2 linked regions of the Homo sapiens genome follow. The protein of the gene in region 2 interacts with the protein of the main gene of each other region in a pairwise test. Each region holds a gene or a part of one and is shown on either strand. Other genes may lie near its edges.

Region 1 (3,662 bases), on a different chromosome or scaffold from region 2:
AGGCTGCAGTCCAGGCCCTCCCAGGGGCTTAGGCCACAAGCCCGACGGTGTCATCCCCATCCCCCCACAGTGCCTCTCCCTCCCCACCTCTCCTGCCACCACCCAGGCAGGCTTCACAGGCTCTTAACCTTTCTCTTGGGTTTCCAACCCCTGCCTTGTGTTCTGTTTTCTGCACCCAGACAGAGGTCCTCCTAGGCTGTCATATCAATCAGACCTTCCCCGCTCCCACCCCATTCGGGTCACAGCCCGGGTCTCTGCTGGGCTCCAGGCATGCATGGTAAGGGCTGGGCTGCCCCCTCATCCTCTCCCATGTCTCAGACCCCTTAATTCCTCCCCGCACTGCCTAATTGCACTGTGCCCATGTTGCAGGCAACAGCCTTGTTTTATTCCAGAGCCCCCCACCTATGTTCCTAGCACTTGGCCCAAGACCTCTCAGGAGATAAATGGATGACTGAGGACTTAGTAACCCCACTGATCAGATCAGGAAATGCCTCCCTTCCAACCTGGCGCCCCAGGGAGCTGCCATTCCGGCTCTCTGACCCACGGCTGCTCTGCAGGTGGAGCTTGTGCTGTTGACTCCACGACAGACCCCTCCCCAGCCCCAGACCCATCTCTGTCCACTCTCCCTCTGTCCCTTCATACCTCTAGAGGGGGTCATAGACCTAAACTCCTCCCTTGAAATCCCAAAGACCAAAGCCAAAGTATCCTCAGCCCCCAGTTCCCTGGCCAAGTGTGGAACGAATCCACAAAGGCTCATTCTTCCTCCGTCTCCCCATCCACACCATCTCACTCAGCCCCTGACACTCACCTCTGAGTACTCTGCCACATCTCTGTAAATATCCGTGTCTGGCACCTGCCCCAGGACAGAGTAGTGGGGCCTGTGAAGGAGAGAGAGAATGCACGAAGAGGGGGCAGAAAAAGGGGATAACAGAGGGGTCCGAAGGAGCCTGAAGTCCCCAGAGATGTGGGGAAAGCTGCGGGGAGCCCTGTGGTACTCTCTCACTAGCTGGAATGAGGGGACCAACATGGCGGACTCACATCTGTGTCCGGACCACCACGAGCAGCAGGGAGAAGATGACCGCAACCACCAAGCCAAGGTCCAGGTTCAGCAAGATGGTGGCCGTGAAGGTCACCAGCCAGATAAGCTGAGAACAGAGGGCAGCGGTTGGAGGGCGGCGAGGAGCCATGGGGCTGCCCAGTCCCTGCCCTGGGCTCCCAGTGCACTCACCAGATCCGCCCGATTGGCCTTCCAGAGGGAGCGCATGTCGCTGAGCTGCCTCAGCATGCCCTTCAGGTTCACAATGATGATGGCTGCCAGGACCGCCTGGGGTGGGGACAGTGCCACCAGGGGCCATTGAGGGCACCCGATGCTGACAACCCTCCTCACCGAGGCAAAGCCAGACTAAGCCCAAGCACTCAGGCAGTACCCCAGACACAAACCCCCACCCAGCCCCTGACCCTTGTCTCCAAATCTCACCTTGAAGATCTCAGCCTTGAAAAACAGAACCTAACCTTGTGTCCCCACCCCTCGCCTGAACCTAGACTGGCTGATTTGAGAGCCCTGGCCTGGCCAAGACCTGAAACCTGGCTGGGTGGGGGCTCACCTTGGGCAGGTCATGGAAGAGTTCCCCAAGTTTGACAATGATGAGGAGGATGAAAAGGGAAGAGATGGCTCCAGCAACCTGTTCGGGGAGGGAGTGAGCAGGGGAGAGACCTCCTTCCCCAGGCAAAGCAATGTGCATGCCCACACCCATGCCCACACCCAAAGCCCACCTGCGAGTTGCCCCCGGTGCTCTCCTGTACCAGGCTCCGAGACATAGAGCAACTCACGGGGAAGCACTGGAAGATGCCTCCGATAAGGTTACTGAGGCCCAGGGCCACCAGCTCCTGACGGGGGACAGTACGGGTGTGAGAAGACTTCCTAGAAGTGGCTGGTCACTGTTCCACTGTATCTAGGCCTGTGCATCCCCAATCTCCATCCCCACCAAGTGGCCCCCAGAGACTGGATGCTGTCCCACACGTCCTGCTCTCCCACCCTCAGTCCCCCACGTGGCCTCAGCACATCTGCTGTCTCCCTGTGTCCCACCGGTTCCTCCCCCACCCGTTGCTGGCGCCTCCATACACTTGGATGCCTCCTACACATCCCGCATCACCCAGACCTGGTTGCTGTCCACCCGGTAGCCGTGCCTCAGGGCGAAGATCTTCCCCAGTGAGATGGCAATGGCAAACCCAACCACAGCGATGGTGAAGGCGCTGCCCACGAGCTTTGAGAACAGCTGGGTGTTGGGGGCCACTGGGGGCACCAGCCTGTGAGAGGTATCTGTGAGGCCAAAGCAAGGTCCTGTCCTGGCTGCCCAACCCTCCCTGACCTGATGGAGGCCAGAGCTCACCCTGCAGGGATGTTGCCCACGACATCTACCTCAAATCTGTGCTTTAGACCCATGCCATAGGAGATGCCTGTGGCCCCGATGAGCTGTGGGAGAGGACAGAGTCAGGGAGGCAGGTGCTGGCACCATGGTCAGGGGGACACATAAACCACTGTGAGGTGAGGAGGGAGATACTGGGCAAAACCTTCTTCGAGGGTGGGAAAAAGTCACGTAGGGTGAGAGACAGGCAACACCATTTCGGCTATGGGGAGATGCTGTCAGGGGCAGGAAGAAACCAACATAGGGGCTTTCTGCTGTGCCCCCCACAATACCCAAGAACCCTCCCAGCCCCCCTCCAGCTGGCCCTCAAATACAGGAGGCTGCCCACGTGGCAAGGACCCAGCCTGACCTGCCCTTCTCCCCTGCCCTCCACTCCCTGGCCCTCGAACCGTGAGCAGCTCCCCGGGTATCGGCATGGGCAGCTGCTGCTGCAGCTTGTCATTCAACAGCTTCACCACCACGAGCACCACCCCAGCCACAGCTGCAGTGACCACGGTGCCAACCTTGCTCTGGGGCAGCTTCCAGCAGACCTCCAGCACTGTCTGAGGAGAGGCCAGGTCACAGCTAGCACTCAAGGCCATGGGGCACACCTACCCCTCCCTCCCCCTACCCTCACTCACATAGATGAGGGACAGTGGCCCAGAGTGGCTGCTCAGATGGAGGCCAAACACATACTTGAGCTGTGAGACGAAGACCTGCACAGCTGCAGCTGTGGTATAGCCTCGGACAAGAGGTTCTGACAGGTAGGTGACCACGAAGCCGAAGTGGATCAGGCCCAGCCCCACCTGTGGGGCGGCCAGGGGCAGTCAGGAGAGGCAGGGGTCCTGGGGTTGCTAATGAGGAGCGCAGGGCAAGTGGGATGGGAGGGGGATGAGTAGACGGCAAGAGGAGGACGACGATGGTCAGACACTCAGGGGAGTACAGACAGGACAGTGGCGGGAGCAGAAGTGGTGGTGGGGGGCACATACTCCTGACTGTTCCACACCTGGAAGAGGCCAACCAGGACACTGAGTGTGGAGGCCACCTGTACCCGGGCAGCATCTCTGGCTGTCTCATTGATCATGGAGTCGTTCAAGGCCTGCGGGGCCAGGGATTCTGTCACACTGCCCACCATCACAGACATGACAGCAAAGGTCCCTGTAAGGACGGCACGGGGCAGGTCTGAAGAGGAGAGGACACTGCCCTGCCCTGGAGCCCTGGTCTTAAGAGAGAGGCCAGGAGACTTCCAGTTCTGGA
Region 2 (3,909 bases):
CAGGAAGGGGAGACAGCATCCCTGAGGACAGCTGCAGTGTGTGGCACAGTGAGCCACCCAGTCCAAGTCCAGCCTCAATAAACACAACGGAGGTGCTGTGTGGCTGGCAGACTATCCCCTCCCCCAGGCTCTCATCCTTGAGGCAACACCCCCCATCCTGGGTTAGCTGAGAGGCGGCTTCGTCCAGGAAGAACACCGGGTGCTGGACCAGCTCAGCTGGCAACATGCTCTGGGAATGTGAGCAAATCACCTGAGGTCTCTGGACCTCGGTCCCCTGGGTATAAAACCACCGGCTTGGACAAGCTGGTCCTGCAGATGCTCAACTTCCAGGAATCCAGCAGAAACCGACATGGAGAGACTTGGGTTGTCAGGGACCTCTGGGCTGGGGTCACTCAATCCCCAGCTACCCTCCTCAGTCACATCTGGCCCATCCTCCAGACACAGCTGATGTCCCTCCCATGCCTTCCTCCTCTGGGAAGCCTCTGTGACTCAACCACCTGTACTTCTTTTTCCCCGTTTCCCCCCTGGAGGAGAGAAGCAGCACCGGTATGTGTTAAGGAAGAACAAACAGACCAGCCAGACGATCAGGGTTCAAACCCCAGCTCTGCCACTTGCTGCTGAGTGGGCAAGTCCCTTCTCCCCTTTTTCCTAAGGGTGTGAGCTCATTGCATCCCTTGCCGAAGCTGCAAACCCATCCACTCTTTCTAGGATGTTCTCACAACCCCACTTTCCCCCCTGCCCTCTGGAAAGGTGGATCAAGTGGAGAAACAGTAAGCTACCTGCGAGGCTCTGCTGAAGCAACAGGCCACTAAGCTTTTATGCCTGGCGATGGAGGCCGATGAAAGAGGCCGGATCTGAACCCGGGGGCCCGCATGGCCCGTGAGCCGGGCAGGGAGGAGGGTGGCCCCGGCCCGTCTTGAACTGTTTGGAGGCATCTCAGGCCTTGCCCACCTCTGGGAGGCAGCCCAGCCTCGGGGTCTGCCCTGCAGATTCCATCGGCTCAAACCATGATTCCTCTCATTAACAGCAAGTTACTGAGCCTCCCTGTCCCTCAGCTGCTCTAGCGTAAGCAGGGGCTGTGGCTCTGAAACGCGCGGATGCGAGGCGTGTAGAAAAACGCCCGGGACGTCACATGCCGAGCAGCAACCGCCAGCCGCGATCGCCAGCATCGCCGTGCACCGGGGCCCAGCACGGGGCTGAGGGCAGGGGCGGCCCGTGCGCACCGGCTCCAGCCCCCCGCGGCTCCCGGAGGAAGTTTGTGGCCCCCGCGCGGCGCTCTCGCCCGCGCCCCACGTTCCCGGAGTCCCCGCCGCTCCACTCGACTCCGCAGCCGCTTCCCGACTGCAGTCTCAACCCGGTCTCGGGGGGCGGCGGCGCGCGCCGGGGGTCTCCGCGCGCCCGCGGGCAGCCCGGGTCCCGGCCGAGGGGGGCAGCGGGCCGGGGCGGCGCGGGGGCGGGCCTGGCGGGCGGCGCAGAGGGCCGCGTGGGGCCGAACCATGCACTCACCTCCGCGCGATCCGGTAGAGCAACACGCCGGCCGCGGCGCACGCCGTGACCCCCAGGCCGCCGGCCAGGCCGGCCGTGGGGCAGCGGGCCAGCAGCGCGCTCACTCCCTCCATGGCTCTCCGCGTGGAAGGACGGCAGGCCGGCAGGGGGGTAGGCGGGTAGGCGGGTAGGCGGGTAGGCGGGCAGGCGGGCAGGCGGGCAGGCGGGCAGGAGGCGGTGACGCCGGGGGCGCGGGCCGCAGGCGGGACGCGGGGCGGCGACGCGCGCCTCCTCGCGCCGTGACCTTCGCCGCTTTGTAGCGGGCGCGGGCCCGCCCCCTGACTCGGCGCGCTCCCGTCGCGCAGCCAATCGGGACGAGGGGTGAGCCCGGGTGGGCGGGGCGGCGGCGGAAGCGACAGAGCCGGCCGGGGAGCGCCCCCGCGCGGCCGGAGGTGGAAGGCGGCGCGGGGAGGGCGGGGCACGGAGCCCTGTAGGAAAGCCCCGCCTTCTGCCTCCCGCGCCAGCCGCCAGGCCCGGAGGTCTGGCTGCAGACAGTCCACCGAGCTTCTGCTAAGGGGAGCATCTCCAGAGTACGCAACTGCTTGTAATTAGTCTTTTTCCCCCTCGCTAATCCTGTCTAGTCAAACCCAGCCTATGCGCCCAGTGCTGTTTAGCAGCTCCTTGAGCCGCTCTAATGGTTGAAAAACTAGCTTTTTAGAAACACGATCATCCACGGATAGGGACATGGTTGAATAAATCATAGGACAGCCATAGTTCGGAACATAATGCAACCATTAGAAAGAATGCCAGATCCAGGCAGGGCGCGGTGGCTCACGCCTGTAATCCCAGCACTTTGAGAGGCCGAGGCGGGCGGATCACGAGGTCAGGAGATCGAGACCATCCTGGCTAACACGGTGAAACCCCCTCTCTACTAAAAATACAAAAAATTAGCCGGGCGTGGTGGCGGGCGCCTGTAGTCCCAGCTACTCGGGAGGCTGAGGCAGGAGAATGGCGTGAACCCGGGAGGCGAAGCTTGCAGTGAGCCGAGATCGCGCCACTGCACTCCAGCCTGGGCGACAAAAGCGAGACTCCTTCTCAAAAAAGAAAGGAAAGGCAAGGAAAGAGAGAGAGAGAGAAAGAAGGAAGGAAGGAAGAAAGGAAAGAAGGAAGGAAAGAAGGAAAGAAAGAAAGGAAGAAAAGAAAAGAAAGCCAGATCTGGAGTTATTGGCATAGATGGATGATACATTGTTTTTAAAAAGCAACATGCAGGCAGGGCGCGGTGGCTCACACCTGTAATTCCAGCACTTTGGGAGGCCGAGGCGGGCGGATCACCTGAGGTCAGAAGTTCAAGACCAGCCTGGGCAACATGGTGAAACCCCATCTCTACTGAAAATACAAAAATTAGCCGGGCGTGGTGGTGCACACCTGTAATCCCAGCTACTCGGGAAGCTGAGGCACAAGAATCGCTTGAACCTGGGAGGCGGAGGTTGCAACGAGTCAAGATTGTGCCGCTGCATTCCAGCCTGGTGACAGGAGACTCCTTCTGAAAAAACAAAAACGACAACAAAAAAGCAACATGCAGGCCGGGCACATGGTGGCTCACGCCTGTAATTCCAGCATTTTGGGAGGCCGAGGCAGGCGGATCACAAGGTCAGGAGCTGGAGACCATCCTGACCAACATGGTGAAACCTGGTCTCCACTAAAAATACAAAAATTAGCTGGGTGTGGTGGTGGGCGCCTGTAGTCCCAGCTACATGGGAGGCTAAGGCAGGAGAATTGCTTGAACCCAGGAGGCGGAGGTTGCAGCGAGCTGAGGTTGCGTCACTGCACTCCAGCCTGGCAACAGAGTGAGACTCCATCTCAAAAAAAAAAAAAAAAAGAAAAAGAAAAAGAAAAAGCAACATGCAGATTGATTTTTAAATAATATCCAAAGCTTAAATAAAGCCTTATGTGCTTGTGGGAAGTGGAGAATAGTTAACACTGAACTGCAAACTGATTACCTGGTGGTGGGAGGAGATTCAAGGGGAAGAGTCACTGTGTTTCATTATTGATTTCAGCTAAATTACTAGTTTTAAAAAAGTAAACAGAAAATATTTGTATCTAATTACACACTATGTTCCAGTGTTCTGATCACTTTTTTTTTTTTGAGGTTAACATTGTAAACTCTTTGTGGGTAGTGATGGATTGAGGGCAAATGTTTTTTTGCTCCTGCAGCCAGTTCCTCTGTCCACACCGGAATCATGCACATTCACTGGGGGGAAGGGGGACTGGAAAGTGAAGCAGACAGGAAACCTGGAGGTTCACTTGGGTCTGGACCTCCTCTTTCTTGTGAGTATCCCAGCAAAAGCCTTTCCATGCAGTCTTGATGCTTTCACCAGCCATGAGCAAACAAAATAATCATTTAAGGTGTATCTTCCCTCAAAA

What was found.
Region 1: the proteins of TMEM201 (region 2) and SLC26A6 interact in binary tests that used the Homo sapiens proteins (3 or more experiments, as listed by UniProt).

Annotation. Positions count from the first base shown.
Region 1 is NC_000003.12:48,628,834-48,632,495, forward strand, and holds part of SLC26A6 (solute carrier family 26 member 6), read right to left. Parts: intron 3,564-3,662; coding exon 3,412-3,563; intron 3,260-3,411; coding exon of another isoform or gene 3,212-3,259; coding exon 3,047-3,211; intron 2,969-3,046; coding exon 2,816-2,968; intron 2,474-2,815; coding exon 2,391-2,473; intron 2,308-2,390; coding exon 2,160-2,307; intron 1,888-2,159; coding exon 1,774-1,887; intron 1,683-1,773; coding exon 1,605-1,682; intron 1,325-1,604; coding exon 1,229-1,324; intron 1,146-1,228; coding exon 1,039-1,145; intron 879-1,038; coding exon 809-878; intron 1-808. UniProt on the Homo sapiens protein: Apical membrane anion-exchanger with wide epithelial distribution that plays a role as a component of the pH buffering system for maintaining acid-base homeostasis.
Region 2 is NC_000001.11:9,586,641-9,590,549, reverse strand, and holds the start of TMEM201 (transmembrane protein 201), read right to left. Parts: upstream 1,640-3,909; 5' UTR 1,620-1,639; coding exon 1,507-1,619; intron 1,195-1,506; exon of another isoform or gene 952-1,194; intron 944-951; exon of another isoform or gene 780-943; intron 1-779. UniProt on the Homo sapiens protein: Critical regulator of angiogenesis and endothelial cell (EC) migration. Promotes the migration of endothelial cells, which is essential for angiogenesis.